4 linked regions of the Homo sapiens genome follow. The protein of the gene in region 4 purifies or fractionates together with the protein of the main gene of each other region. This does not show direct contact. Each region holds a gene or a part of one and is shown on either strand. Other genes may lie near its edges.

Region 1 (3,501 bases), on a different chromosome or scaffold from region 4:
CTTATAAAGTGTAAGTGGAGACGCTAAATTGTGAGTACAAAGTTTCTTTTTCACAACAGTGATAAGAAAATATCTTTAAAAAATATAAGACAATATAAACATGTCATCATTAGTTTAGCTACTATTAAAATGTAACATCTAGAAAGTACTGATCTCCACCTTCAGACTTCTGTATAAGTATATTTTTTCACTGATCTGTTCATTAGAGTTCTTCCAGCCAAGACTCTGGGCTCTTAAAACATGTATCTGAAAACTAAAAACAAGTTAATTTTTTTAAAAGCTTCTCTATTTCTAGTGATTCAATAGGTAGAAAAATAGCTTCTAGAATTAACTGCAATGCTTTCTAAGGAAATTTTATAAATCCTCAAGGTCGGTTTACACATATTTTTCCAGATTCAGAGCACTAACTATCTTGTAAGATGTAAGAAAAGGTCCATTTGGAAGTATGAGTAATAAATGTCTGGGATAATTCTGGTTTATTTCGTATTATCCTTGTTAGAATAAGTTATATGGTCAACCTGTTCAGAACACTTTTTCTAGTGTTAGTGTGTACTTTTGGATTTTTGGTTCTTGTAGGGTATAGAAATATTTTCCTTTGTCTTGTATTCTGTTGTTTTGAATGAATAAAACACAATGTTTCACGATCACTACTTTCATTTGCCATGGAGAAATAGCAGGGAAAAATTTCTACAGAATAAAATTAACTGATGAATTACATGCAGAAAAAATTCAAATCAATGATACATTGTAATTTTTATCTCAATGCAATGTTCTTTGTATTTTATTTTATTATTATTTTTTTGAGACGGAGTTTCACTTTTGTTGCCCGGGCTGGAGTGCAATGGCACAATCTCGGCTCACCACAACCTCTGCCTCCCGGATTCAAGTGATTCTCCTGCCTCAGCCTCCTGAATAGCTGGGATTACAGGCATATGCCAACATGCCTGGCTAATTTTGTATTTTTAGTGGAGACGGGGTTTCTCCACGTTGGTCAGACTTGTCTTGAACTCTGGACCTCAGGTGATCCACCTGCCTCAGCCTCCTAAATTGCTGGGATTACAGGCATGAGCGACCACTCCTGGCCTTGTTCTTTGTATTTTATAAGTGCATGTAGTGCAAAGGGTCAAAGGGCTTTACAGGTTTTTTGTTTGTTTGTTTTTGTTTTTCCCGAAACATAGTAGTCCCTTGCCCTTCCTCATTTTTGTTACCTTGAGACAACAAATTTTACTACTTCTAACTCATTATTTTATTTATGTTCACTTTTCTGAATAGCATGCTTATGACACTAATACTTTTTTTTTCAATTTTAGACATTCATTATTCATTTAGATGTCTTTCTCTCCCCAAACTCACCACATAAAATACTCTTCTCATGTCTCTTTCAGAAATATTTGTATTAAAATATGATTATATCAATATTTGGCATTTATTTCTTATGACCTTGCCAGTACTCTTAGTTAAACTACATGGTAAAAATGATTTTGCTTTCCCTCCTACATAACTTTTTTTCCACCTAGAGCTAATAATTGTCATTCTGGGGACTGACTTTTTCTGTATTTACCATAAATTGACCTGAAACTCCCCTGTGATGCAGCAGGAATTCTACCAACGTCAACTTCCTTAGAAAGACTCCATTAGAAGCTTGACTTGGGGCTAGAAGGAGAGGCACACAACTGCCATCCTGGTGTCTCCCTTCATCCAGAAAAAGGGGGAGGAATACATGAAACCTAGAATCCACTCTAAAACATTTTCCAGAACAAAAGGACATGTGTTTCCGTGTTGTAAATGTTTAACGAGTGCCCATAACAAGGAATAATAAGTCTATTATGTTTGCTTTTGTGTCTGTAAAAGTTGGGGGTATTGGTTGTAAGCACGAAAACAGATACTGACTGTTGAAGAAAAAAAAAAATACGAGGTCAGGAGTTTGAGACCAACTTGGCCAATATGGTGAAACCCTGTCTTAGTAAAAATAGAAAAATTAGCCAGGCCTGGTGGCACGCACCTGTAGTCCCAGCTACTTGGGAGGCTGAGGCAGAAGAATCGCTTGAACCCGGGAGGCAGAGGTTGCAGTGAGCCAAGATCGCACCACTGCACTCCACCCTGGGCAACAGAGCGAGACTCCGTCTCAAAAAAAAAAAAAAAAAAAAAAAAAAAAAGTTAAGTATTTGAACATAGGGGTGGCTCATAGAATTCCCAGGACACCCGATGGAGTAGGCTTGCAAAACACAACATGTGGCAACTCCAGTGGGAAACGAGGCAGGAAACACTCGTTTCCTGCAGAAAGCAACAATTTGGGCTTCGATACCCTCCCTAGAACACAGGGCAGTGAATCTGAGCAGCATCAGTACCCCACGTTCGGATGAGTCCTGAGCCCCTATTTTTATTCACTGACTTATTCCAAAATCAGTGTCTCTTAAATATATCTGGAAGGCAGCAGCTTGTATCTCCCCCTTCAGCTTCCATAGTGGCAGTCAGGGTACAACTTACTTTCCAAACAGAACACACTGCGACATTCCCTCCAGGCTCGTTGAAGAACTTCAACTGACAAATGTCCCTCCTCGACCAGATGATAGTTTTCTTAAAGGCAGGGTTTAATATACCCTTTTATAAATGTTTCAAGGCCCTGTGTAATACCTGAGTTTATTCCAGATGTAACTAAATATATCCAAGATTGTTTTAAAATAAATTGCTGAAAAAACAAATAAATACAGTTAGTATCTATATCAATATTCTCAGTTGGCAGTTTTGCAATAATGGCCGATAGTTCATTTTTAGTAACACTATTGACATTGCATTTGGATATTAGGGTTTACTAATCATCCGCATGTATACATTGCATATTTTTCTAGACTTTAACTTTATTCAAATCTATTGATTTTTAAACCTGCAACTTATGTCTAGACACAGGTATACCTTTACAAGAACTACCATTTTTTTTGGTAACATACTACCTCCAAAATTTCAAGTAAGAAGTTGATTTTTGTCCATTTTTAAATGGAAAACTTGTAATCAAAATGCCACAAAATTATACTGTGTATCATTTGACCTATAGAAACCAATATTATTACAGGAAGAAAGCAGAGCCAATCTTCTACCTGTGGTCAAATAAGTGGAGGCCCTTTCTAGACTAAGTTCTCATGAGTTTAAAATACCAAGCATAAGTTCTCCAAATTCCTGAAAAGGAAGCCTTGTGTTGTATTGCCCAGCCATATTTGTAAGACATAAAAATAAAACTTGAGAAGAAGCTATGATAACTTACTTTCTTCATTCTTCAAAATTTACATAATCTCAACTGATTTTATGTTTTTATGAAAATGCATTCTTAAGATATATCCTTATTCAATCATGTATTCATTACATCCTTTATGCCAGGTATCCAAAAGTACTTACAGTGACTAAGACCATTATTCTTTGATCAGCTGCCTGAGTAAGACTTTGAGCTCTCCAATATACTCTCAGTGATACTAAGTTTTCTGAGTAACAGCTTTGGATGTGGCTTCA
Region 2 (3,501 bases), on a different chromosome or scaffold from region 4:
TAGGTTGTGATGATCACAGAACCCACCTCCTAGGGCTGTTTTGGACATAAAGTGAGATACACATATAAAGTGCTTATCACGGGGCTGGGCACATGGAGGAGCACAAGAATGCTGGCTGGCGTGATTTGTTCACAATTCCAGCCCCTGCAAAGGAAAGGGAGGGTGTCTTCTCTCCTTCCGAGAGAGGGTTGGGCCTCAGATGTCATCTAGGTCATTCTAAATGTCAGGGCTTGATGTGCAGGCAAGACGACCTCCCTCGGTTTAGCTGGTTCTCCAGGTAGCCTCAGTCCCAGCCATGCCCAGTGCCCACTGGGCATTAGTCAGCCAGTGTTTTTGGCCCTTCCAGGCCATAAACACAACCCCTATGGAGAGGGTCAGGCCTGGAGAGCAGGTGCACGGGCACATGATGGGAGTGAGTGCTTTCCATCTCATTGGTTCATTCATTTGTTCATTGAACAAATATTAACTGAGCACCTATTGCATGTCAATCCCAGTTCTAGTCACTTGAAATACAGAACAACAAGACAAAGTCCCTGCCTTCATGGAACTTACACTGTAGAAAGGGAGATAATGAACATAACAAATAGGTAAGCTGCATGGTACGTAGGGAGGTGACAAGAGTGACTTCACTGGGCCAGCTCTGGTGACCTCGGGGGATGAGTCTCTTAGCACACAGGCAACTGGCAGAGGCCTCTCTGGCATCAGAGCCCAGAACCCTTCTCCAGGCCCAGGGGGGACTCACCTCACCCTGCCAGGAGAGCCCCTCACCAAGGGGTGAGGGGATACGATGCATCCATAGTCTTTCCAAAAGTAAAGCCTGCCTGGGTTTACCTGCCTGACCATAGAATCGATATTCTGCAAGAGGCTCTGCTGAAGTTCACAGGCCCCAAGACCAGGGTCCAGTAGCCTCTTCCATCCTGCACGGGGCCACAGGACAGGAAGTCAGAAGGGGGACTCCTGGGCAGCCAGAAGATCACAGCAATGTTTGTGTGTGCATCCTCTCACCCTGAAAAGACTGAGCAGCTAATGGGGACAGGGAGAGGGGCCTTCGCGACAGGCCCCCAAGGGGTAGCCAACAACAAGGGAGGGGAGGTACGTGAAAATTGGTCCCAAGAGCTCAGCAGGCACAGCAGTCTGGAGCCATTTAATGTAGAAGCACGCTGCCCTCTGCACCAACATCTCCGAGGGATATATCCTGGTATAACCAGATTTTACAGCCCTATGTGAACTTCTATGGCTCAAATCCTCTATTGGAAGCTCATATAAGACATTTCTTTTAAAGCTGAGTGTTAGGGAAAAGGTTACTTTCCCTGAAGAACTGGTATGTTCTGCTGGTATGTTCTGCTGAACAGTAACAATGTAACAGACCATGTCTCCCTTTTCCTTTTGGTTGCCAGGAAACTCTAAGCCAGTGGTCTCCAACCTTTCTGGCACCAGAGACTGGTTTCAAGGAAAATAATTTTTCCACAGGATGGGGTGCGGGGGGGTGGGGGGTGATGGTGTCGGGATGAAACCATTCCACCTCAGATCATCAGGCATTAGTTTGATTCTCATAAGGAGCATGCACCCTAGGTCCCTTGCATGCACAGTTTACAATAGGGTTCACACTCCTATGCGACTCTAATGCTGCTGCTGATGTGACAGGAGGTGTAGCTCAGGTGGCAATGCTCCCTCAACCTCTGCCCACCTCCTGTTGTGCGACCTGGTTCCTAACAAGCCACTGACCGGTACTGGTTCATGGCCTGGAGGTAGGGGAGCCCTGCTCCAAGCCACCAGACACGAGGCTCAGCTCCTTTTCAGTGAGTCCATGAGGTCCTGAGGCTTAGATAGCAGGATTTTATATTTTTCTCCATCATCTAGGCCTCCTATCTGAGAATACAATTCCCACAGTCCTGATTTTTAATGCTATTTTAGTTTTTTACACTACATATTTCCCGTGTACTCATTCAAATCCCAGGTTGAATAGTACAGTGTAAAATAAATAGATCTGGACACAAATCAACCAGTTCTATGGAGGAAGCGAACGCCCTGTTTCACATTTAGAGAAAATCATCCAGGTGTGGTGGCACAGGGAGACTCAATGGTCATGTGTAACACAGGGTCAGATAACCCCGGCCAGGGGAAGGCTCCTCCCTACCTCAGTGCTCTCATTCAGATGCTGTCTTTAGATTCTACCCTATCTGCAGATGATGTCCGTGTTTACACCCCTTGCCTAGTCGTTCCCAGAACTCCAGACTCCTATATCCAACCGCATCTTTGACACCCCTGATGGGATGCTGAACAGGCTCTCAAACCCCCCACGTCCACGGTGAGCTCCTGGTCACCCAGCCTGCCTCCTTGCAGTCCTCCCCTCTCAGGCAGTGGCAGCCCCGTCTTTCCTGTGGCTCAGACCAAAACCTGGGTATCCTCCTTGATTTCTCTCTTTCATTCATCGCCCACATCTGCTATGCGAGCAAATCCTGTAGGCTTACTTGCAAAATACAGCCAGAATGTCACCACGGTTTGCCACTTCCACCACCACCACCACCACCCAGCTCCAAGCATCTGTCTTCCCCTCCCTGGTGCAGGGATGCTGTGGGGAGCCCTTAGGTGTCAGCCCCCTGCAATAACTACTTCATGTGATCATTAATTTTATATGTCAACATGACCAGGCCATGGGATACCCAGATATTTGGCCAGACATTATCCTGGGTGTCTCTGTGGGGGTGTTTCTGCATGAGGCTAATGTTTAAATCAGCAGACTAAGTAAAGCAGATGGCCCTGCCCAAGGGGGAGAGGTCTCATCTGATCAGGGAAGGCCTGAACAGAACAAAAGACTGCCCTCTCCTCAGTGACCATAAGAGAATTCTCCCTGCTTGGCTACCTTCGGGCTTGAACTGAAATGCTGGCTCTTCCTAGGTTTGAAGCCTGACCAGCCTTTGAATGGGAACTCCACCCTCAGCTCTCCTGGGTCTCCAGCCTGCCGACTCACCCTGCAGATCTTGGGACTTGCCCGCCTCCATAATTACACAAGCCAATTCCTTATCATCAATCAATCCCTCTCTTTCCTCTTGCTGTATTAGTCTGTTCTTGGCTGAACAGAGCCAGCAAGTCCCTTCTTGGGTGGACCACTGGACTCATGCAATGCCTGGTCAATGTGGGTGGGAGTGTGAAGGCCTGGCCCCCTCACCCCAGTAGGGGACAACTCTGAAGGGCTGTCCTCATAGATGTGGCTGAGGCCTCCAGCCGAACTGAGCTGAGGCTGCATCACTGCTCAACTCCCTTCATTGCCCAATCCCGCTTCTGGCTCCCACTTCCACAGGTGTTGATCCAAGAGCACCTTCCTGGACAAGATGACCTATGACCCCTGGATCACTGCATATCAGCCCCTAACTCTATCCCTGCATCTAGCATGTCCCTCACAACAGCCAGACTGATTCTTGTAAAACCAAGTCAGAGTGCCCCTCTTCCATGCAGCCCTGTATGGTCCATCACTCAAGGGTGCCCCACAGTCCTGCCTGT
Region 3 (3,501 bases), on a different chromosome or scaffold from region 4:
CATGAAAAAAAAAATGCTGACTCTCCAAAGACACCAGGGTATGAGAAAGTTTTGGATTCTCTCCTTTGTGCCATCTCCTGTGTTGGGGGCTGAAGTACAATGGTTGTAAAAGACAAGAGGGAGAAGGCTGGTCACAGTGGCTCACGCCTGTAATCTCAGCACTTTGGGAGGCCAAAGTGGGGGGATCACTTGAAGTCAGGAATTCAAGACCAGCCTGGCCAACATGGTGAAATCTCACATCTACTAAAAATACAAAAATTAGCTGGGCGTGGTGGTGTGTGCCTGTAATCACAGCTACTCGGGAGGCTGAGGCAGGAGAATTGCTTGAACCCAGGAGATGGAGGTTGCAATGAGCCAAGATCATGCCATTGCACTCCAGCCTGGGCAACAGAGTGAGACTCCATCTCGAAAAAAAGAAAAAAGAAAAGAATATAAGGAGTGATTAAAAAAGAAAAGAAAAGAAAACTAAGTAGGGTGAAACAATAGATAGCCATGGGGGTTAGGGAGCTTTTTTAGACAGGGTCGTGAGGGAGGGTCCCTGAGCCTGAGTGGCGAGAAGGAGTGAGCCTTGGGGAGATCTGGAGGTTCTGGGAAGAGGAATGGCAAGTGCAGAGGCCCTGAAGCAGCAATGACCATGGCACATTTGAGGAAGAGAGAAAAAGTCAGAGAAGTAGAAAGTGGGCAAAGGAAGCAAGACAGGAGGTGAGGTGGGAGAGGTTCCAGAGACCAGATCACACCAGACATCATTGGCCACCATAAGATCTTTGGGTTTTAAAATTCCAGATGTTATGGGATGCAGGAAGCAGCATGATCAGCAGCATTCTCTAGGTGCCAGGTTGAGAACAGGCTGTGGGGGAACCTGTAAAGAGGTTGCTGCCATAGTTCCGGCGAGTGACGGTGGTGGCTTGGATGGGGTGATGGCAGTGGAGAGGGCAGGAGGGAGGATCAGGAATGGACCTCAAGACTTCCCAGCCCTGGGTCTGCTGCACTTTTCAATCAAACCCCATGGCCAGGGAGATTGTCCCCTCAGAGTGACTGAAGGAAATTCAGAGAAGAGCTGACACCTAAGTTGTAGATTTTGCCCGAACAGGTCAGTTGACTGGCGGCTATAAACCTAACCCCCAAATCTATGTCAAGCTCATCGAGGAGTGCACCGACCTGCAGAAAGAGGGCGAGTTCTCCACCTGCTTCACAGAACTACAGAGAGACTTCCTGAAGCAGCGCCCCACCAAGCTCAAGAGCCTCATCCGCCTAGTCAAGCACTGGTACCAAAATGTATGGCCCTCCCACCAGGCCTGGTGGGTCCTGTCTCGACTGGGAGCAGAGGAGGGGTGGGGGGAGGAGAGAAAGAAGGGAGTGAAGGGAAGAGGAGGGGGAGTGGTGGAGGGAAATAGAGGGATGGAAAAAGGAGAGAAAGGAAAAAGAGGTGGAGAGAGGAGCCTGCAACAGAAGGGAGAATGAAAGGGAAGGAAGAGAGAAAGGAAGGGATTTTGGTGTTCTGTTCACTGCTGTATCCCCAGAACTTAAAACAGAGCCTGGTGCATAATAGGTGTAAATAACTGTTGAATAAATGAATCAATGCTACATACACACACGCACGCACACACACACAGAGAGAGAGTCAACCACACTCTTCAGAAGGTGGATAAGTTAAAACAAGAGTTTCAAACAAATATATGTTCAGATGCCCTTTCCTCCCACTTACTGGCTGGCTGGCCTTAAGTAAGCAACTTAACCTTTCTGTTCTTTCTGCTTTCTTATCTGCAACGAGTAGCATGCCATAGCTAGAGTAACACGGCATATAGTTGGTCCTGATAAATGTAGCATATTTTAGCCACCATAGGAGTACACATAATAAAAGCTAACATGTAGTATGTGCTTAGCTTATCTATGTTTTGTGGATGTGATACAATTTTCTGTTCACTTTTAAATGCCCTGCATCTTAGTCAATTTTAACAGTGATTCTGTAAGTTAGATAAGGTTAGGCATTATTATTAAATCCATTTTACACCAAGAGAAACTTGGGTCAAAAAGAGAAACTCCTGGGTCACATGGCTCATTCGGCCAATAAGTAGCAGAAGTAAAATTTGAATTTGGCTGGGCGCGGTAGCTCACACCAGTAATCCCAGCACTTTGGGAAGCCAAGGCAGGTAGATTGCTTGAGCCCAGGAGTTCAAGACTAGCCTGAGCAACATGGCAAAACCTCGTCTCTACAAAATAAACTAAAAATTTAGCCAGGTGTGATGGTGAGCACCTGTAGCCCCAGCTACTGGGTAGGCTGAGGTGGGAGGATCGCTTGAGCCTGGGAGGAGGAGGTTGCAGTAAGTCAGGATTGCACTACTGCCCTCCAGCCTGTGAGACAGAGCAAGATCTTCTCTCAAACAAACAAACAAACAAACAAACAAAAACTCGAATTTGGGTCTATTGACTTAAGAGTTTGCCTGATAATAATAGGCATTCAATGTATATTTCTTGAATGAACGAATGAATGAAAATAATCAGGAATAAACTTTCCAATTTAAAAGTAACACCTCTAGGTAAAAAAAAGACAATCATTTAGTTGCCAGACTTCTAAGTGTTTGCTGTTCTATGAATTGTAATCATGGAGCCTGAGCATTGTAGAATTTACAAAAGCAGTTCCTGACAAAAGCAGCACTGCCCCCAGGGACATATTGAAAATTAATGAGGGTGTTTTTGGTAACCATGGTGATGGGAGGACATGGGTGCTACTTATATTTAGTGGAAAGAAGACAAGAATGCTAGTTATTGTACAATGATCAAGAGAGTCCTGCACAGCCAAGAATTGTCTTTTTCTTTCTTTCTTGATGCTGTTCTCCTTTAAAACAAGACAAGATTAACAATAATTTAACTCCACTAACCACCATCATCACCACCTCCAACTTATATGCTACATTTCTTGTATATTTCAAGTCTGTTTATATTTTCAAGTGCCTCGAAGTATTATTGTTTTATAGCCAAATGTTTAGTTAATCTGCTCACAGATTTACCACTTTCTTCACTATTCATTCTGTCTTACACCTCTAACATTCCATCTGGGGTAATTTTCCTAAATGATCATGCATCCTTTGGGATTTCTTTTGATGATGGTCTATTGGTAGTAAACTCTCTCAGTTATTGTTTGTCTGAAAATGTCATGCTTTTGCCTTCATTGTTGAAGGGTGCTTTTGCTGGGTGGTCATTTCAGTATATTGAATATATCATTCCATCTTCCAGTGTCATCATTAAAAAGTCAGTTGCCAGTCTAACTGCAGCTCTTTTATAAGTAACCTGTCTTATTCTTCTGGCTGCATGTAAAAGTTTTCTCTTTGTCTTTGATTTTGTTTAGCTTCAATCTGCTGTGTCTTAATGATGGGTTCCTATTGTTTGTCCTGATTGGGATTCCGTTAAGATTCCTGAATCTGTGGGTAGATATCTTTAATCAGTTTTGAAACTTCTCAGCCATTCTTCTAAAATATTGATTCTCCTTCATTCTCTCCTCAC
Region 4 (3,501 bases):
ACTGAAGTGTACTAAGGGAGCTATTTTAAGTAACACTATACTAAATTATCTAGCAAAGTGAATAATCACTCCCCTGTTTGTTAAATCTGGGTTTTTATACGGAGTTACTTCAAGCAAGGAATTCCTAAGATGCAAAATATGGTACAGATGATTTAAGTGTCAGAAATGCACAAACACCATTTAGACTCCACCCTTGAAATCCCACCTTCCTTTCCCCATAAGTACCCATGCTCCTTGGGTGGACGCTGCCACTGGGCTAGGTGCTTTACGTTTGCTAAGGTTTAATTTTCGAAATAGCCCCATAGAAGACTATTATCCCATTTTACGAGAGAAAATGGATCAGAAAGGCTAAGTAGTCTGTGGAAGAGCTAGGGCTCCAATTTCCATCTGACTGATCACTAGGGAAACACTCAAAAGGCTTTTACTCATCCTCGGAGGCCCCTGGACTTTAATTCTCTTTATGGAGTTATTTCGACTAACATGTACTTTCTGAAATTTTCCACAAAGGAGACATGTTTTTTGTAAACCAAGGAACAACTGTCCCCACTCTGGGATGCTCAAGGAACAAAGCTCTGACTGTCTAGTTAGGTTGACCCTGGTGTTCATCGTGGGCCAACGAGGCTGGGAGCTCATCCTCCCATCTTGGGGCTCCGTGAAGTACCCACTCTGTGCCACTGACTCCAGAAGGAGTCTCTTTTTTTTTTTTTTGAGATGGAGTATCCCATTGTCGCCTGGGCTGGAGTGCAATGGTGCGATCTCGGCTCACTGCAACCTCCACCTCCTGGGTTCAAGCAATTCTCCTGCTTCAGCCTCCGAGTAGCTGGGATTACAGGCACCCGCCACCACTCCTGGCTAATTTTGTTTTTCTTTTTTGTATTTTTAGTAGAGACGGGGTTTCACTATGTTGGCCAGGCAGGTCTCGAACTCCTGACCTCATGATCCGCCCGCCTCGGCCTCCCAAAGTGCTGGGGTTACAGGCGTGAGCCACTGTGCCCAGCCATGAGTCTCTCTTAAGAAGCAAAACCAGTGGTAGTGAGAGTAGCAGGTCCCTAAGCTATAGCCTCCCCTATTGACCTGAGCCCTCTCTCTCAAGGCTGCTCTCTGCCTGTGCCTAGCAGAATCCATGCCAACCCTCGGACACCATAAAGCGAGTTTCTATAAATTTATGGAAGAGGCAAAGCCTTGAAAATTTTTCTAGTAAGTCTTGAAAATTATTTATCAATGGTGACACTAGCACATAATAGCAAAGCTGGGGAAACTGCAAGGGCTGCTGGTGCCCTTCTGGGTGCAGGCTCAGGCCAGGTCTAGAAAGAAAGCAGGACGTGCTATGGCACATTCCTCAAACTGTGGCCACCTGGGTTCTGTCAGCTACAGCCTGGCACAAGAAGAAGACATTCCCAAACACTGAGAAATTTGGGTGACATTCTTACCATCCATCTTCACAGTTATAAAAACGGGCTTGGAGTGGATCTCTGCCTCCTTCTGCCAGGAACCTGTTGGTGACTTCACCCATGGAGTCACGGAACAGTAGTAGTTGCCAAAGTCCTGGTCCTCGGAGCCATGCACTTGCAGCAAGAATTCCAGCACACTCACGCGCTCCAGGCTGAGGTCGCTCTTCCAGTCCCTCCGGGAGGTGGTCACGATGCCCTTCCGATCCAGGGAAGACAGGAGCACAGGAGCCTTGTCCAGGCCAAAAGAGTGCACCGCAAACCAGGACACATCAAAGGCCATGTCATCTACGGATTACCAAGCCAAAACCCTGGGGTCAGTGCAATGGGCAGAAGTCATATGTATGGCCACATCCATGTATGAGGCCCTTACTACGTATGGCAAGCACAACACTACATGCCTTCGGTCTCACTGGATCCTCACAACAGCCCTATGATGAAGGCACTATCATACTTTTATTCTGCCATTATTGCCAGACTATATACCTGCTCAAGGTCATGTAGTCAGCAGGTAGCAGAGTGTGCAGCTTAACCCAGGGAGTACAGCTCCAGAGCCCAGCCTCTTAACCACTGCACTGCTGCCACCCAGACTAAGGGGCCACAGGAAGAAGAGTCAGGGCCAAAAACTGTCTCCCACAGAGAACACTGATCCGAAAGCTGGTATGCCAGGACACTGCAGGCTCTCTCTCCCAAAGAAAGCCAGCTCCTTTGACAGTTTAGGCAGAAGAACCCAAGACTGGAAGGACACTAAAGTCATATGGAACAAAATGTACATAAAATGAATTGCACCAAATTTAGAGTTGTAAACAGTTTAGATTTTATTGTACACTATGGTTTTTCTTTCCTTGCAGAAGTGCTTAAGTTCAAAACAAGAGGAAAAAAAATGTCAAGCTGAGAAAATGGAACACAGTTTAACAGTCCCAGAGAGTAATGCTGAATCGTAAAGTACTCTGCAAAATTAAGATTCTAACAGCCTCAAATAAATTAATATGGGCATAAGAGAAAGAAGACTTTGGCACAAGTGGTAATTCTCATGGAATGTGAAAACAGAGCACACATCATAAGCCCTTGACCTCTTCCCTTGACTGGTACCAACCATTATCAGCTGTGTCGGCTCTGAGATTCATCCAGCAACAAAAGACAACAGCCATGACACTGTTGTCTTAAATCCACTTGAGAAAGCGTTTTATATAAATGTCAAATAACACAATTTTTTGCCGAACAAGAGATAACATTTGTTCATTTAGTAAAAATACACTAATAGCCTCAAAAAGCACATAAGGCAAATAAATTATTTTCAGATGCTTACATATTAAAAAAGTAAGCAGAACTAAAAGCAAGAATTTCTATGAAATTATCCAAATGATAATTCTTCCTTAGCTCACTCTAAACATGTAATATCTTCTCTTTTTCTCCCATTGACCCACTGTGGCACTTGAGCATAATTTTTTTTTTTTTTTTTTTTTTTTGTTCCCAGTGTCTCTCCAAGGAAACTAGCTCCCTGGGGGCAGAGGGAGTGCCATAAACAGCCTCATGCTCTCACAGTGCCAAGGGCAGAGTGGACACCCGCATCACTCTCGTCTTCAGTGAAAACTCTTAACTCAGTGCTGCTGTCACCTGCAGGTGCTGGGTGGTTGCTGAAGGCAAAAAGCCAAACCGGGTTCCCAGACTCTAAGCCCTGATCCCCGCTGTGCCTTATGGTGTGGGAGCCAGGCTCCAGGGCCAGGCTGCCTGGGCTAGCATCCCAGCACCAGCACTAATGAACCATGTGACCTGGGCGAGTTCCCCAAGTTCACTGAGACTTAGTTTCCTCATCTGCAAAATGAAAATGACAAAACCCAGGGTTAAATTTACCACATTTATTAAAATGCTTAGAACAGCACCTGGAACACAGTAAGTACTCAATAAAAGTTGGTCACCATGAACAACATTATCTCCACAGCTCAACACACATGCTCCTACACACAGACCTGCTAAGGGGAAGGGCATTACCAGCTGCAGCAAATGCAGCTGGTGGCCAGTCCACCCCAGCTGGTGGGCTGGGCCTCTGGCC

The links.
Region 1: the proteins of PTGFRN (region 4) and CD226 purify together in Homo sapiens (co-immunoprecipitation; one large-scale study listed by IntAct). This does not show direct contact.
Region 2: the proteins of PTGFRN (region 4) and TSPAN15 purify together in Homo sapiens (co-immunoprecipitation; one large-scale study listed by IntAct). This does not show direct contact.
Region 3: the proteins of PTGFRN (region 4) and OAS1 purify together in Homo sapiens (co-immunoprecipitation; one large-scale study listed by IntAct). This does not show direct contact.

Annotation. Positions count from the first base shown.
Region 1 is NC_000018.10:69,857,374-69,860,874, reverse strand, and holds part of CD226 (CD226 antigen isoform a precursor), read left to right. Parts: 3' UTR 1-3,501.
Region 2 is NC_000010.11:69,499,964-69,503,464, reverse strand, and holds part of TSPAN15 (tetraspanin-15), read right to left. Parts: intron 1-3,501. UniProt on the Homo sapiens protein: Part of TspanC8 subgroup, composed of 6 members that interact with the transmembrane metalloprotease ADAM10.
Region 3 is NC_000012.12:112,909,961-112,913,461, forward strand, and holds part of OAS1 (2'-5'-oligoadenylate synthase 1), read left to right. Parts: intron 1-1,090; coding exon 1,091-1,275; coding exon of another isoform or gene 1,276-1,298; intron 1,299-3,501.
Region 4 is NC_000001.11:116,982,915-116,986,415, reverse strand, and holds part of PTGFRN (prostaglandin F2 receptor negative regulator precursor), read right to left. Parts: intron 1,737-3,501; coding exon 1,431-1,736; intron 1-1,430. UniProt on the Homo sapiens protein: Inhibits the binding of prostaglandin F2-alpha (PGF2-alpha) to its specific FP receptor, by decreasing the receptor number rather than the affinity constant. Functional coupling with the prostaglandin F2-alpha receptor seems to occur.